Regions from separate parts of the Homo sapiens genome. Here regions 2, 3 and 4 are each reported to be linked to region 1. The links are microRNA targets in miRTarBase. Many come from high-throughput screens and were not tested one by one. Region 1 holds a microRNA gene; each other region holds the end of a gene's coding sequence.

The links. The annotated mature microRNA hsa-miR-506-5p reads UAUUCAGGAAGGUGUUACUUAA and lies in region 1 at 1,667-1,688, shown strand. An mRNA with a match to its seed (bases 2 to 7 or 8) in the 3' UTR can be bound and repressed. Matches are read on the target gene's strand: a 7mer-m8 pairs with bases 2 to 8, a 7mer-A1 pairs with bases 2 to 7 and ends in A, and an 8mer does both.
Region 2: miRTarBase lists SLC20A1 as a target of hsa-miR-506-5p. Seed matches in the 3' UTR shown: 7mer-A1 at 1,078-1,084.
Region 3: the mRNA of DYNLT1 is a reported target of hsa-miR-506-5p. Seed matches in the 3' UTR shown: 7mer-A1 at 2,565-2,571.
Region 4: miRTarBase lists LHX6 as a target of hsa-miR-506-5p. Seed matches in the 3' UTR shown: 7mer-A1 at 1,045-1,051.

Annotation. Positions count from the first base shown.
Region 1 is chrX:147,229,339-147,232,475 of GRCh38, reverse strand. MIR506 (microRNA 506) reads left to right here and starts at 1,633; the gene lies at 1,633-1,756. It overlaps MIR507 (microRNA 507), which reads left to right and starts at 1,399; the gene lies at 1,399-1,492. The region is part of intron 2 of LOC105373347 (periphilin-1); the gene reads right to left.
Region 2 is chr2:112,662,718-112,665,854 of GRCh38, forward strand. SLC20A1 (solute carrier family 20 member 1) reads left to right here. Exons shown (of 11, transcript NM_005415.5): 11 at 147-1,108. The coding sequence ends at 308. Among named protein-coding and RNA genes, the nearest start is that of SLC20A1, 18 kb to the left of the region's middle.
Region 3 is chr6:158,634,037-158,637,173 of GRCh38, forward strand. DYNLT1 (dynein light chain Tctex-type 1) reads right to left here. Exons shown (of 5, transcript NM_006519.4): 4 at 3,092-3,137; 5 at 2,438-2,861. The coding sequence ends at 2,791. It overlaps TMEM181 (transmembrane protein 181), which reads left to right. Exons shown (of 17, transcript NM_001376852.1): 17 at 1-1,393. Among named protein-coding and RNA genes, the nearest start is that of DYNLT1, 9.1 kb to the right of the region's middle.
Region 4 is chr9:122,202,250-122,205,386 of GRCh38, reverse strand. LHX6 (LIM homeobox 6) reads left to right here. Exons shown (of 10, transcript NM_014368.5): 10 at 607-2,805. The coding sequence ends at 627. Among named protein-coding and RNA genes, the nearest start is that of LHX6, 25 kb to the left of the region's middle.

The DNA of each region.
Region 1 (3,137 bases):
ATTTTTACATTCTTAAAAATTGTTACTCCCGGCTGGGCACGGTGGCTCATGCCTGTAATCCCAGCACTTTGGGAGGCCGAGGCCAGTGGATCTCCTGAGGCCAGGAGTTCAAGACCAGCCTGGTCAACACGGTGAAACCCTGCTTCTACAGAAAATACAGAAAATTAGCTGGGTCTGGTGGCACATGCCTGTAATCCCAGCTACGTGGGAGGCTGAGGCAGGAGAATCGCTTGAACCCAGGAGGCGGAGGTTGCAGTGAGCTGAGATTGTGCCATTGCCCTCCAGCCTGGGCAACAAAAGCAAAACTCTGTCTCAAAAAAAAAATTGTTACTCCTTTATTGTTTTTTTAGTTGACACATAATAATTTGTAAATATTGATGAGATATAGTGAGATGTTTTGATACATACATGCATTGTGTAATAATCAAATCAGGGATTTAGTATTTTCATTACCTCAAACGTCCATCACTTCTTTGTGGGAAGAACATTCAAAACCCTCTCTTCTAGTGATTTTGGAATATACCATAAAATATTGTTAACTAACTATAATCAATCACTCTTCTGCACAATAACACATCAGAACTTTTAGCCCTCCTAACTGTGACTCTGTACCCATAAACCAATTTTTCCCCAACCCCCCTTTCCCTTCCCTTCCCCAGACTCTGGTAACCATCATTCTACTCTCTACTCCTATGAGATCAACTTTCTTAGACTCTGCGTATGAGTCAGATCATGCAGTGTTTGTCTTTGTGTTTGCATTGCCCTATTTTGTGAGCATTCGTTTTGGGGTTGTTTGTTTCATTGTTCACATGTTTATTTGCATGTGTGGCATGCATGTGTTCACATGTGTTGCAGATATTTCTTGGTCTAAACACTGGTTTGCAAGTGCATGACTGTGGTGACTACTGCTTCTGCTGCTGTAGGCCTTCATCTCTGAACAGAGGATGCCAAACCAAGGCCCCAATGATATAAAGAAGATTCAAATTGGAAAGAAGAGAACTCTCCAGCACTGCTTCAACTGAGCTCTATCTGGCCTGCAATCGCTAGATATGATGAGTCACTTGAGTGGTCCTTTCTATGTAATGACTGGCTTTTGAGGCATATGAAGTAGTTGTTCATGTGCCAACTATATTAAATTGAAAATTAGCAGAACAATTTAGTGAAGTATGCTAAGTCTGGGAGGAAGAGGGAAAATTTTCTCTCTCCTAAAATCTGTCTCATTAAATGTGCAGCAGGTGAAGTAATTAATAAGCATTCAGTGAAAGACATAGGAGACAAAAGGGAGAGGAAAAAGGGTTTGTTTTTTTTTTAATCTATTGACTATATTCTGCTTATTCCTAGTGGACTGAGAGTGTTGGGATTCTGACTGAAATGGCGGAGTGAGGGACATTTTCCGCTGTGCTGTGTGTAGTGCTTCACTTCAAGAAGTGCCATGCATGTGTCTAGAAATATGTTTTGCACCTTTTGGAGTGAAATAATGCACAACAGATACAAGTCAGAACTACCCACTCAGTGATGGGTCAACTCATACAACCCTTTAAAGAGAATTCTGTGGGGTAAAACCTAGAGGATGAGGTTCTCTGGGAATAGCCTCATCTGTAGTTTCCCCGTGTTACTATTAAGATGGTCAGTGCCACCACCATCAGCCATACTATGTGTAGTGCCTTATTCAGGAAGGTGTTACTTAATAGATTAATATTTGTAAGGCACCCTTCTGAGTAGAGTAATGTGCAACATGGACAACATTTGTGGTGGCATTGGTAATGACGAGTGGAATTTCAGTGACAATACTGCCCTCCCTTGAGCCTTGGTACCCAACCTTTAGTGATGAGCCATTTCCAGGTACTCTCTGAAGTACCTCTTGAGAGATCTGCTCCAGAATCTGAGGGTGCCTGGGAAAAGTCTCTCATGTAGGTTTTTCAATTATTTATTGCTTTTTCTCCACAAAATGACTGACTACACTGGAAACAAGATTTGAGGTAGGAACATGATACTTCTTTTTCTCTTGTACCTCTTAGTCTTTTCTCTCTATAACAACCCAAATACACTTCTTGCCTTATAAACCCCTGAGAAGTTTACACTGATCTTCTTTCCTCACAATATTTAAGCCTTCTTTTTAGGGAGCACAAATATCCTCCTGCCCTTCCCTGCTGAACTCCAAACTCCATGAACCATCTTTCTTATGAAGTGATCTCCTCAAGGCTTAGATACACTCAAATTCCCTTTAATATTCCTGTGTATCCGTGATGATAATCTCATATCAGTGGAGTTTGATATGATACCCCAAATTTGCTTTCATTTGAACTATTTATATGTTTTTAGCTGGTCTTAACTATTATGGGAACGGATGAAGTGATGAGAACATATATGTATGAACATGTGTGTACATATACTTCTGGAAACTTTACATATACAAAGGGGTTTATATATCCCTTTATATATATATATATATATATATATATATATATATATACACACACACACACACACACACACACATACATATGACATTCACAGAAAAAGGAAAAGGATGCAGAAAAAGGATCATGTTCCTACCTCAAATCTTGTTCCCAGTGTTTTGTAGTCCTTTTGTGGAGAAAAAGGAATAAATGCTTAAAAAACCTACAGGACATACTTTTCACAGGTACCCCAGGCACCCTCAGATTCTGGATCAGGTCTTATAAGACCTTCAAAGAAACACCCAGGACAATGATTGAGCAAATATATATGTATATAATTATTATAGAAGTCTATTTTTAAAATAAATCCCTTAAGATATTTATTATAAGGATACTGCAAGGAATAACCTCAGGCAACTATGGAGGCTGGTGAGTTCCTAGATCTGCAGGGGGATGGGTCAGCAAGCTGGGGACCCAGGAGAACTGATGGTATAGTTGCAGTCCAAGTCCAGAGGCCAAAGAAGCAGTAGAACAAACCATTTTGTAGTTCCAGTCCAAAGGCCAGCAGGTTTGAGACCCAGGAAGAGCTAATGTTTTAATTTGAGTACAATGCCAGAAAAAAATGAGATGCCCCAGTTTGGAGGCAGTCAGGCAGGAGGAATTCTCTCTAACTTAGGGGAGAGTCAGCCTTTTTGTTCCATTTAAACCTTCATCTGATTGGTGCAGGCCCATCCATCC
Region 2 (3,137 bases), not on the chromosome of region 1:
CAGCTTAACCTGTTGTAAACCAGCTTTCTTGGACTTTGTCTTGTCCAGGGGTCTGGGGCTCCTTGTCCAAACAGTCTCAGGTGTCTGTTTGCCAGAATACCACTGGCACTTCAATAACCTGTTTCCTTGGTCTGCTTCTCTTCTAGGTGGGCTCTGTTGTGTCTGTTGGCTGGCTCCGGTCCAAGAAGGCTGTTGACTGGCGTCTCTTTCGTAACATTTTTATGGCCTGGTTTGTCACAGTCCCCATTTCTGGAGTTATCAGTGCTGCCATCATGGCAATCTTCAGATATGTCATCCTCAGAATGTGAAGCTGTTTGAGATTAAAATTTGTGTCAATGTTTGGGACCATCTTAGGTATTCCTGCTCCCCTGAAGAATGATTACAGTGTTAACAGAAGACTGACAAGAGTCTTTTTATTTGGGAGCCAGAGGAGGGAAGTGTTACTTGTGCTATAACTGCTTTTGTGCTAAATATGAATTGTCTCAAAATTAGCTGTGTAAAATAGCCCGGGTTCCACTGGCTCCTGCTGAGGTCCCCTTTCCTTCTGGGCTGTGAATTCCTGTACATATTTCTCTACTTTTTGTATCAGGCTTCAATTCCATTATGTTTTAATGTTGTCTCTGAAGATGACTTGTGATTTTTTTTTCTTTTTTTTAAACCATGAAGAGCCGTTTGACAGAGCATGCTCTGCGTTGTTGGTTTCACCAGCTTCTGCCCTCACATGCACAGGGATTTAACAACAAAAATATAACTACAACTTCCCTTGTAGTCTCTTATATAAGTAGAGTCCTTGGTACTCTGCCCTCCTGTCAGTAGTGGCAGGATCTATTGGCATATTCGGGAGCTTCTTAGAGGGATGAGGTTCTTTGAACACAGTGAAAATTTAAATTAGTAACTTTTTTGCAAGCAGTTTATTGACTGTTATTGCTAAGAAGAAGTAAGAAAGAAAAAGCCTGTTGGCAATCTTGGTTATTTCTTTAAGATTTCTGGCAGTGTGGGATGGATGAATGAAGTGGAATGTGAACTTTGGGCAAGTTAAGTGGGACAGCCTTCCATGTTCATTTGTCTACCTCTTAACTGAATAAAAAAGCCTACAGTTTTTAGAAAATTTGTTCTCATGGTTTTCTTTCATACTCGAATCACCTGGGCTCCTGATCAGTTAGCCTAATATCATTCTTAGGTGATGTGAATATCTTAACAAGTGAGAGCTACTGTCCAACTTAAAGCTCCCAACCCCTCCCTGTATGCTTCTTGTGTGCCCAGAATATGCAAGACATTACTCCATAGGGACTGTGGTGGCAACTTGGCATTTTCCCTTTTAGTAGCACAGCCTGTACACTTTCATGTTAGCACACGGGTGTTTTTTTTGTTTTGTTTTTCCAGTTTTTTCTTTTGATACTTTTTGTTTTTTTTTTTGAGACGGAGTCTCGCTGTGTCACCAGGCTGGAGTGCAGTGGTGTGATCTCGGCTCACTGCAACCTCCACCTCCTGGGTTCAAGCAATTCTCCTGCCTCAGCCTCCTGAGTAGCTGGGACTACAGGCGCCCACCACCACATCTGGCTAATTTTTAGTAGAGACAAGCTTTCAGCATGTTGGCCAGGCTGGTCTCAAACTCCTGACCTCAAGTGATCCGCCTGTGTTGGCCTCCCAAAGTGCTGGGATTATAGCCATGAGCCACTGCGTCTGGCCTACTCATGGTTTTTCACAGCCAAAGATTTACTGTTGAATGGACAGCTTTATTTTACTATTTTATGTAGATTGTTTTTAGCTTTGGTATTACGGTAAACCCTTGAACAGTGTGGAGGTTGGACACCAACCCCCATGCAGTCAAAAAACCATGTATAACTTTTGACTCCAAAAACTTGACTACCAGTAGCCTACGGTTGACCAGAAGCTTTAGCAATAACATAAACAGTTGTGAACACATATTTTACGTGTTATATGTATGTATTATATACTGTACTACGATAATGTAAGCTAGAGAAAAGGAAATAAAACCATAAGGAAGATACATTTACTATTCATTAAGTGGAAATGGATCATAAAGGTTTTCATCCTTGTCATCTTGAGTTGACTGAGGAGGAAAGGAGGAGTTGGTCTTGCTGTCTCAGGGATGGCAGAGGTGAAAGTAAGTCTGTGTATAAGTGGATTCTGCAGTTCAGACTAGTGTTCAAAGGACATCAGTACAAGGAAAGCAAAAATGAGTGGGAGGCAATGTGTAGCTAAGTTTTGTTTAAAAGTTCTCAGTATGGGATTCTTCAGTTCTGACCCATTATATTTTTGCCCCTGATCAGAAGTTAATGAAAAGTACATTTCTTGGCAAACTAGATTGATAGTTCCTGTCCTGAGGGTTTGGAACAATACTTTTGAATTTTGAGTTTATTTGGAGCGTTTCACTAGAAACCAACACTAAGAATCGAACAGGGTAAGGCAGTGCCTAGTCTAACCTGTGCCTGCAAGGTTAGGCCACTGGCTGGGTACATGCCGTTGCATCCTGCTGTCAGTTTAATGGTCTTGCAGAAGACTACATTTAATCCTCATGGCCTTTTGTGGTAGATCTTATCCTGATTTTGTACATGATGAAACTGGCGTGGAGAACATCTGTATTTGCCCAGTATTGTCAGTTAGCAGAGGGTGCCCGTTACTTGTAGCCTTTGGGGCTGGGTGAAACTAGCTTTATGACTTGTTACTTGAGGGAAGGGAGGGTAGGGGGCTGTTGTAAAGGGCGACCGAGCATTAGGCCTTGAACTGAGGGTCTGGGAGGAGACCCTCAGAGTTCTGGCACTGCCTTCCCTTCGTGCTGAATGACCTCACAAAAGCCCAGATCCTTTCAGAGCCCAGTGATTACATGGAGAAGAGGAACCTCCCTGGCACTTTCACTTGGCTCAGGACAGAACAGCTGAGAAAATACTTAGACCAAGCTTGTCCAGCTACAGACAATTTTTCCAGTGTGGCCCAGGGAAGTGAAAAGATTGAACACACCAAGGATGTGTTTCTGTAGGCAGAGCAGGTAGACCTGGGGAGAGGAGCCTCTAGAGCTAGGGAAGGGACCAGAGGAGCGGTTATATTTCTACTTTAGTTGTCTGCCATGGGGCAGGGACACATGGTGAGAACCCTGGCCCCCCCCTTTTTTTTCG
Region 3 (3,137 bases), not on the chromosome of region 1:
GTCCTATAGTGTAATTATAAACTGATGACTATTATCTTCATACATTGAGTCTTCATGCATCAATGAAATGAAAAATATAGGATTATTTATTTACTTTTTGTAACTAAGTGGGAAATAAGAAAAAAAGTTAGAAAGTACTTAAGGGGAAAATCGTTCTTACTAAGTCATGTATTTTCAACTTGTCTTCCCTGGTATATCATAAATACCGACATATTACATACCCCATGTAAAATTTTGCTTAAACTCTCTAGCACTTGGCATGTAGAATATGTACCATAGGTATCAGGTTAAAACACTAAAGTCTGCCAGAAACTTTTGACAGTAGCAAGAAAATTGTTGAAGAAAAAATAAATTATTTACTGAGGGTAGTTATGTTAAAGTTTTGCGAACTTAAAGGGCTGACTTTAGTTCCTTCATGGTAATGGCTTGAGTAACATCATCTTTGGGATTTTTTAAATACTGGTCCAGTCTAGGAGAACCTGGAAGATGACCAGAGGTATTTCAGTTTCCCTAGGGAGAGCTTCGTTATCCATGTGGATGATAAGTCTGCTTGATTTATTATTAAATCATTATAGCAGTGAAGTGGTGCCATTTTCTCTCTCTTAAGCCCCATTTGAAAGGCTAGAGAAGGGGATATATATACTATGTTCAAGGTTTGTAAGGTTGTTAATGTACATAATTGCAGATTGCAATAAAAGCTTAGATACATTTTGTAAACCCAACCCACTAAATGAGCAGGTTACAAGACAAATGTCACCAGCCTCAAGTATTTTATGAACTATTTACTGAGGGTAGTTATGTTAAATAGATTATAATGTGGTAAATTATTTCCTGAATCCTTTATCACAGGAAAAACACAGACCCTCATAAAAGGGATAATTAAAACGGATGTGTCTGAACATTTAGTGAAGATGAGACTTAAAACATGAAAGTGTATTTGTGTATTTTGAGGGTTTTAGAAACCGGTTGCCTTAGAGGTTAGACTTTTGAAGAAAAAAAAAAAAAGATACAGATCTTTTCCCCTGGCCAAAGGGAAGTTGTATTAGTCTGTGACATCTTGTGATGCTGTTTATCTTGGTTTGACATTGGAGATACGCTAGTAACTGTGATACCATACTATAAAACAGAAGAATTTTCTGCTACTAAAAACTGCCTTTTTACAAAATGACTGTAAATATTTGTAAAATAAAATAACACTAAACTTTAAGCCCAAAAGGAGAGATAGAGCCATGTGTTCAGTTGTGGACCTGTCCGTGGGGCACAGTGCCACCCCATCACAGTGTTGCTGTCATCAGGCAAAAGTGAATGTTTGTTTATGGCAAATTCGTCTTTTGCGAATGGCTTAATTCTGACACTACCTTTCTGGGAAATGTTAATAAATTTTTAATATTCACTTCTATGTGTCTTGATTTGTTTGCTCTTTGTGTGTGGAGTTAATTTGGCCTTGCAGACATAAATGCTTTAATAAAGCGGCTTTGGAGACAACGGCAGGGCTTTTCCATTTCAGCAGGCAGGCACGGAGGTATCTTTATTGCCATGTCTAATGTGGCCTGGGGAAGAGCACTCAAGATGGAGACAAGGCGTGGGTTTGGGCCCAGCTCCCAACTTGGATGTGTGACTTTAAACCAATCAGATAACCTCCAAACACATTTTCTGAGATTTTTAAATGACTGCAAATTGTTGAAGACACAGAATGAATGATTGTGAAAACCATTTTGTAAGCTCTGAAGTACTAAGACAATTTGTGAGCCCTACAGAGAACACAGGATTAACAGTTAAGGTGTTACAGCTTTGGGCCAAGTGTGAGTTAGAGCTCTCTGGCTAAGAGAATAGAAATTGGTTTGCCCACCTCCCACCCCTTCACCTCTAGAAGAGGAGGGCTTAAGAATGGGAGGTGTGATGCCGAGGGGTAGGAATCTAACCAGAACCCAGCAGAGCCGTCAGGATCCTGGTCCCACGGGTAAAATGAGTACATCATGGAGAGGACCACAGCAGAACTTTTTTTTTTTTGGTTGTATATATATATATATATATTTTTTTTTTTTTTTTTTTTTTTTTTTTTTGAGGCGGACTCTTGCTCTTGTCACCCAGGCTGGAGTGCAGTGGCGGGAACTTGGCTCACGATCTTGGCTCACTACAACCTCTGCCTCCTGGGTTCATGCCACTCTCCTGCCTCAGCCTCCCGAGTAGCTGGGACTACAGGCGCCCGCCACCACACCTGGCTAATTTTTGGTATTTTTAGTAGAGACGGGGTTTCACCGTGTTAGACAGGATGGTCTTGATCTCCTGACCTCATGATCCGCCTGCCTCAGCCTCCCAAAGTGGTGGGATTACAGGTGTGAGCCACTGCGCCTGGTCTGGTTGTATAGATTCTGTAGCCACTCACTATGAAGAAATCGTTTATGATACTATGCAGACTATGAAGAACACAACAGACTTTAGATTTGAATAATTTATTCTAACAAAAGTATAAAGTATGGAAAATTAGTGTATTTGAATCATTTCAGAGAGTAGAGCAAGTTTCACACTAGCAGATTTCAGATTTTAGCACCTTTGAAATGAAATATTCAGAGTTAAGACAAGTGGCAACGCAGGCTGCAGGTGACCTACAGGGATACTCATCTGACTTCGGTGCCATTCACATCACAGTGCGGTCATTTGGTTTTTTCCTCTACATTGTGAAAGTGCCACAAAACAAAGAGAATGAGAAAAGAGTTCACTGAATTCATGGCTGGTGGTTAGAGGATGAACTAGAGACAAAAGGAGAAAGGCCATAGGCTGGACTGCAGGTCAAATAGACAGTCCGAAGGCACTGACGATGCAGTACATGGTCTTATTCTCCCATCGCACAGTGCAGCTCCCTGCGGGAGGGAAGAGAGCAGCATTTACGGCAGGGAAAGCTGGGGGACGACGTTTTACTCACAATAAGGCCAACATTCAAGTACCCATCTCTATGCTACACAAAGAACCTTGGCAAGTCTATTATTAAATGTTTTAAAAGGTGATAAACATGCATTGCATTCAAAGATAGGAAACTTCCAGTCATATATTTCACACAACAAAACTTCACAAACATGAATGAAAATCATACCGTCAGTAGAGCTGTCCCAGAAGCAGGAACTTGCTGTGTGTAATCC
Region 4 (3,137 bases), not on the chromosome of region 1:
GAGCCACGCACTTCTAGGCTTCGTGCATGTGAAGATTAAGCGCATGTGAAGTGCTTAGCCCGTGGCCCTGTGGGTAATAAGCAGTCAGCCACTATGGTCACGGTGACCTTGGAAAGGTAGAGGCAATGTGCTTTGGTAGGGAGAGCTTGCTGTGAGCCAGGCCTGGCCTCCAGTGCCAGGTCCTCCTCCTCGCTGTGTGCCCACGAGCTCACTCGCTTCCACCTCTTTGAGCCTGAGTGCCCTCCTTGTAAAACAGAACGTTGGAACTCCCTCACGGGGCTATGGTGCGGCTTCCGTGAAATCAGGCACAGAAGGTGCAGGGTGAAATGCCCAGAAGGCTTTTGCTGCTGCTGTTGTATCTCATTGAATCTCTCTGATTCTCAGAGAGAGATTTTGTCATCCTTGTTTTAAAGATGAGGAAACAGGCTCAGAGAGGTGCAGTGAGTTGCCCAAGGTCCCACAGCAAGTCAGTTGACAGAGCCAGGATTTAAACTCAGATCTGGGCCCTGAGTCCACCCTTCTTCTCTGTGCCTTTGAGGTTCTCTGGGGGGCAGCAGGGTGGGGCAGGCCCCCAGCTCAGCCACCTCCCATGCCCTCCTCTTGCAGGTCATCCTTTTTCAGTACTAACGCTGCCGGCACTTCCGCATCTGCCCGTGGGCGCCCCACAGCTGCCCCTCAGCCGCTGAGATCCAGTGTCCAAGCTGCGGCCAGGAGTCCACCCACCTCCGCATCCACCCCCGTCCGCCATCCTGCCCACCACCAGGTCGGTTCCCGAGGCCTGGCCTTTCCCTCTCCTGCTGAGAACCAGAACCCACCAGGAGCACCACAGAGTCCTCCTCTTGGAAGGCAGAACTCCCTGAAATCTGGAATCAGGGTGGAAACAGCCTGTTTTTCCCATTTAAACAGGAGTCCTCTTCAACTTCAGCTGATTACAATAACAAAAGGCGGAATTGAATTGTGCGATGCCAACGGCCTTCTCATTTACAGGTTTTTTTCCCCCACATTGGCCTTTATTTACTACTTCCTTGGAACCATCTCTGAATTCTGAATAGCTGACAACCCCCAATGTTATCCACTCTGTTGCTTTTGTCTGGAAAACTCTACAGTGTTTGTGGGATGTCCCCAAAGGAAAGCTATGTTCTAATTTTATCATTTCCATCTGTCTGGTTATGTCAAGTTAATTCAGAAAGAGAAGAGACAGTGACCAACCCTGAGAGGCCTAATAGGGCAGAGATGGAGGCCTGCCCAGACTAGGAGGCAGCGGGGATAGACAGGGAATGGGGAGAAGAAAGACCCCCATTGGTTTGGAAATCAAGGAGAGGGCGGTGACATATTGGACCAGAAGAGGCACTAGCCATTTTAAGGAGAGGAAAGAGAAAACTCTGGGGTCAGGGAGAGACCCTACCCCCACCTAATTATCCAGCATATATGTAAGAAACATAGCAGCGATGGTATTCGATCTGTGCCATGACTCTTCTGAATGTTTGGACAGGTTAGAGTTGGGGACCCCTGTTGGCCACTTGTTGACCTCTCATAGTGGTGCTTGGGCCAGGTCTTCTCAATGGAAGGGGAATCCCTTATAGGGGAGAGGGAACAGAGCCCAGTGAAATGGCAGTCAGAATGTTAACCCTGGATCCATCTCTAAGTAGAGAGAGGGTGCCCATTGCCTAGGTGAGTGTGCCAAGCTCAGGATTCCAACTGGTGCCTCTGAGCTTCCCAATCAATACTTCCTGGAGCCAGCCCCACCCACCCCTGAGAACAGAGGTCAGACACAGCTGCGTAACATCCATCCTGCTACAACTCTTCCACCCCAAACAAAAGGGCTCAGGCTACACACGACCATGATTTATGTTTTCAGGGGATGCCCATTTGTCCCAAGCTTATCCTGTAATTCTAGAATTACCTGGTGTCCTGATGCATTTTCCACTAGAGGTTGCTAATCAGCATGTTTTAGCCCAAGTCCGCCTTCCTGCTGTGGTTAACCTGTTATGTTGCTTTTGGAAGGAGACTCTAAGACAGGGAAAGCAAGTTCATGGTACATACGCAGCCATTGTCTCTGTTTTTACCCATGGCAGACATTGCTAATCAATGGCAGCTCTATTTCACTGAGTCTGGATAAGGTTTCAGAGTTCAAATGCTTGACGTTGGCACTTAACATGAAAGCCTATAGGTCATTCTTGCTCTGGGATCTACAGGCAGGGTAGGCACAGGTGCAGCCTAAGAAGGGAACCTGCTTCCTCTCCCTTCCAAAGACAGTGACAGCTGACTGAGGGCAAAGAGCAGGCACCACTCAGAACGTGGTGAGTACAGCTCAGCTCAGCACTCAGTCAGTGGTAACTTGTGCCCAGCCCTGTGCTAGGCGCTGACATTAACAGGAGCAACCAGGGCCCAATTCCTGGCCTTGGAGCTCAAATCTTTCCTTTGATTTTTGCTCCTGATCATCAAGGCCCCAGTGGCAACCATGTGGTAAGTGGCCAACCAAGCCCTACCCAGGGTCACCCAACACACTCTGCCTTGAGCCTCTCCTCAGGGTCTATTCCTTGCGTGGATTATGTGGCCGTAGCATGTTACAGTTCAAACATGTCTCCACTACCCTGTTAAGAGCAGCCTGGGAACGTACAGGCCATCAAGACTATTTATTTAAATACAAAAAAAGGGGAAAACACACACACGGAAAAAAAATTGTAAGCACTTTTTTTGTAAAACCAATGTCTGTTTTGTTACATACCTTTCATGTCGTGCTTTGTAAATGTCTTATTTGTGTAATAAAGTTAATGCAAGTAGAAGTGCTGGCACTGAAATCCAGAACATGATGGGATTCCATTTCTTTCCTGCTCTCTGGTGAAGGGCTTAGGTCCCTGGCTCCCAGAATATGTGGGCTGCTGGACAGTGTAATCCTCCTTCCTGGGAAACGGGTACCATTTCCCAGTTAGTAAACAATGGATTGTGGAGGCCTGACGATGGGTTTCTTCTGTAAGTACTCAGTCACACCTGCTTCTTATCTAAGCTTTGGAGGAAATCAGGCTGCTTGATGCCCTCTGTTCCAGTCTCTGAACATACACTCTCTGCTGGGCCCTGTGCTGGCTCTGCACACTGAGAAAAGGCTCCCAGCCAGACCTTGTCCTGGAGGAGCTCTC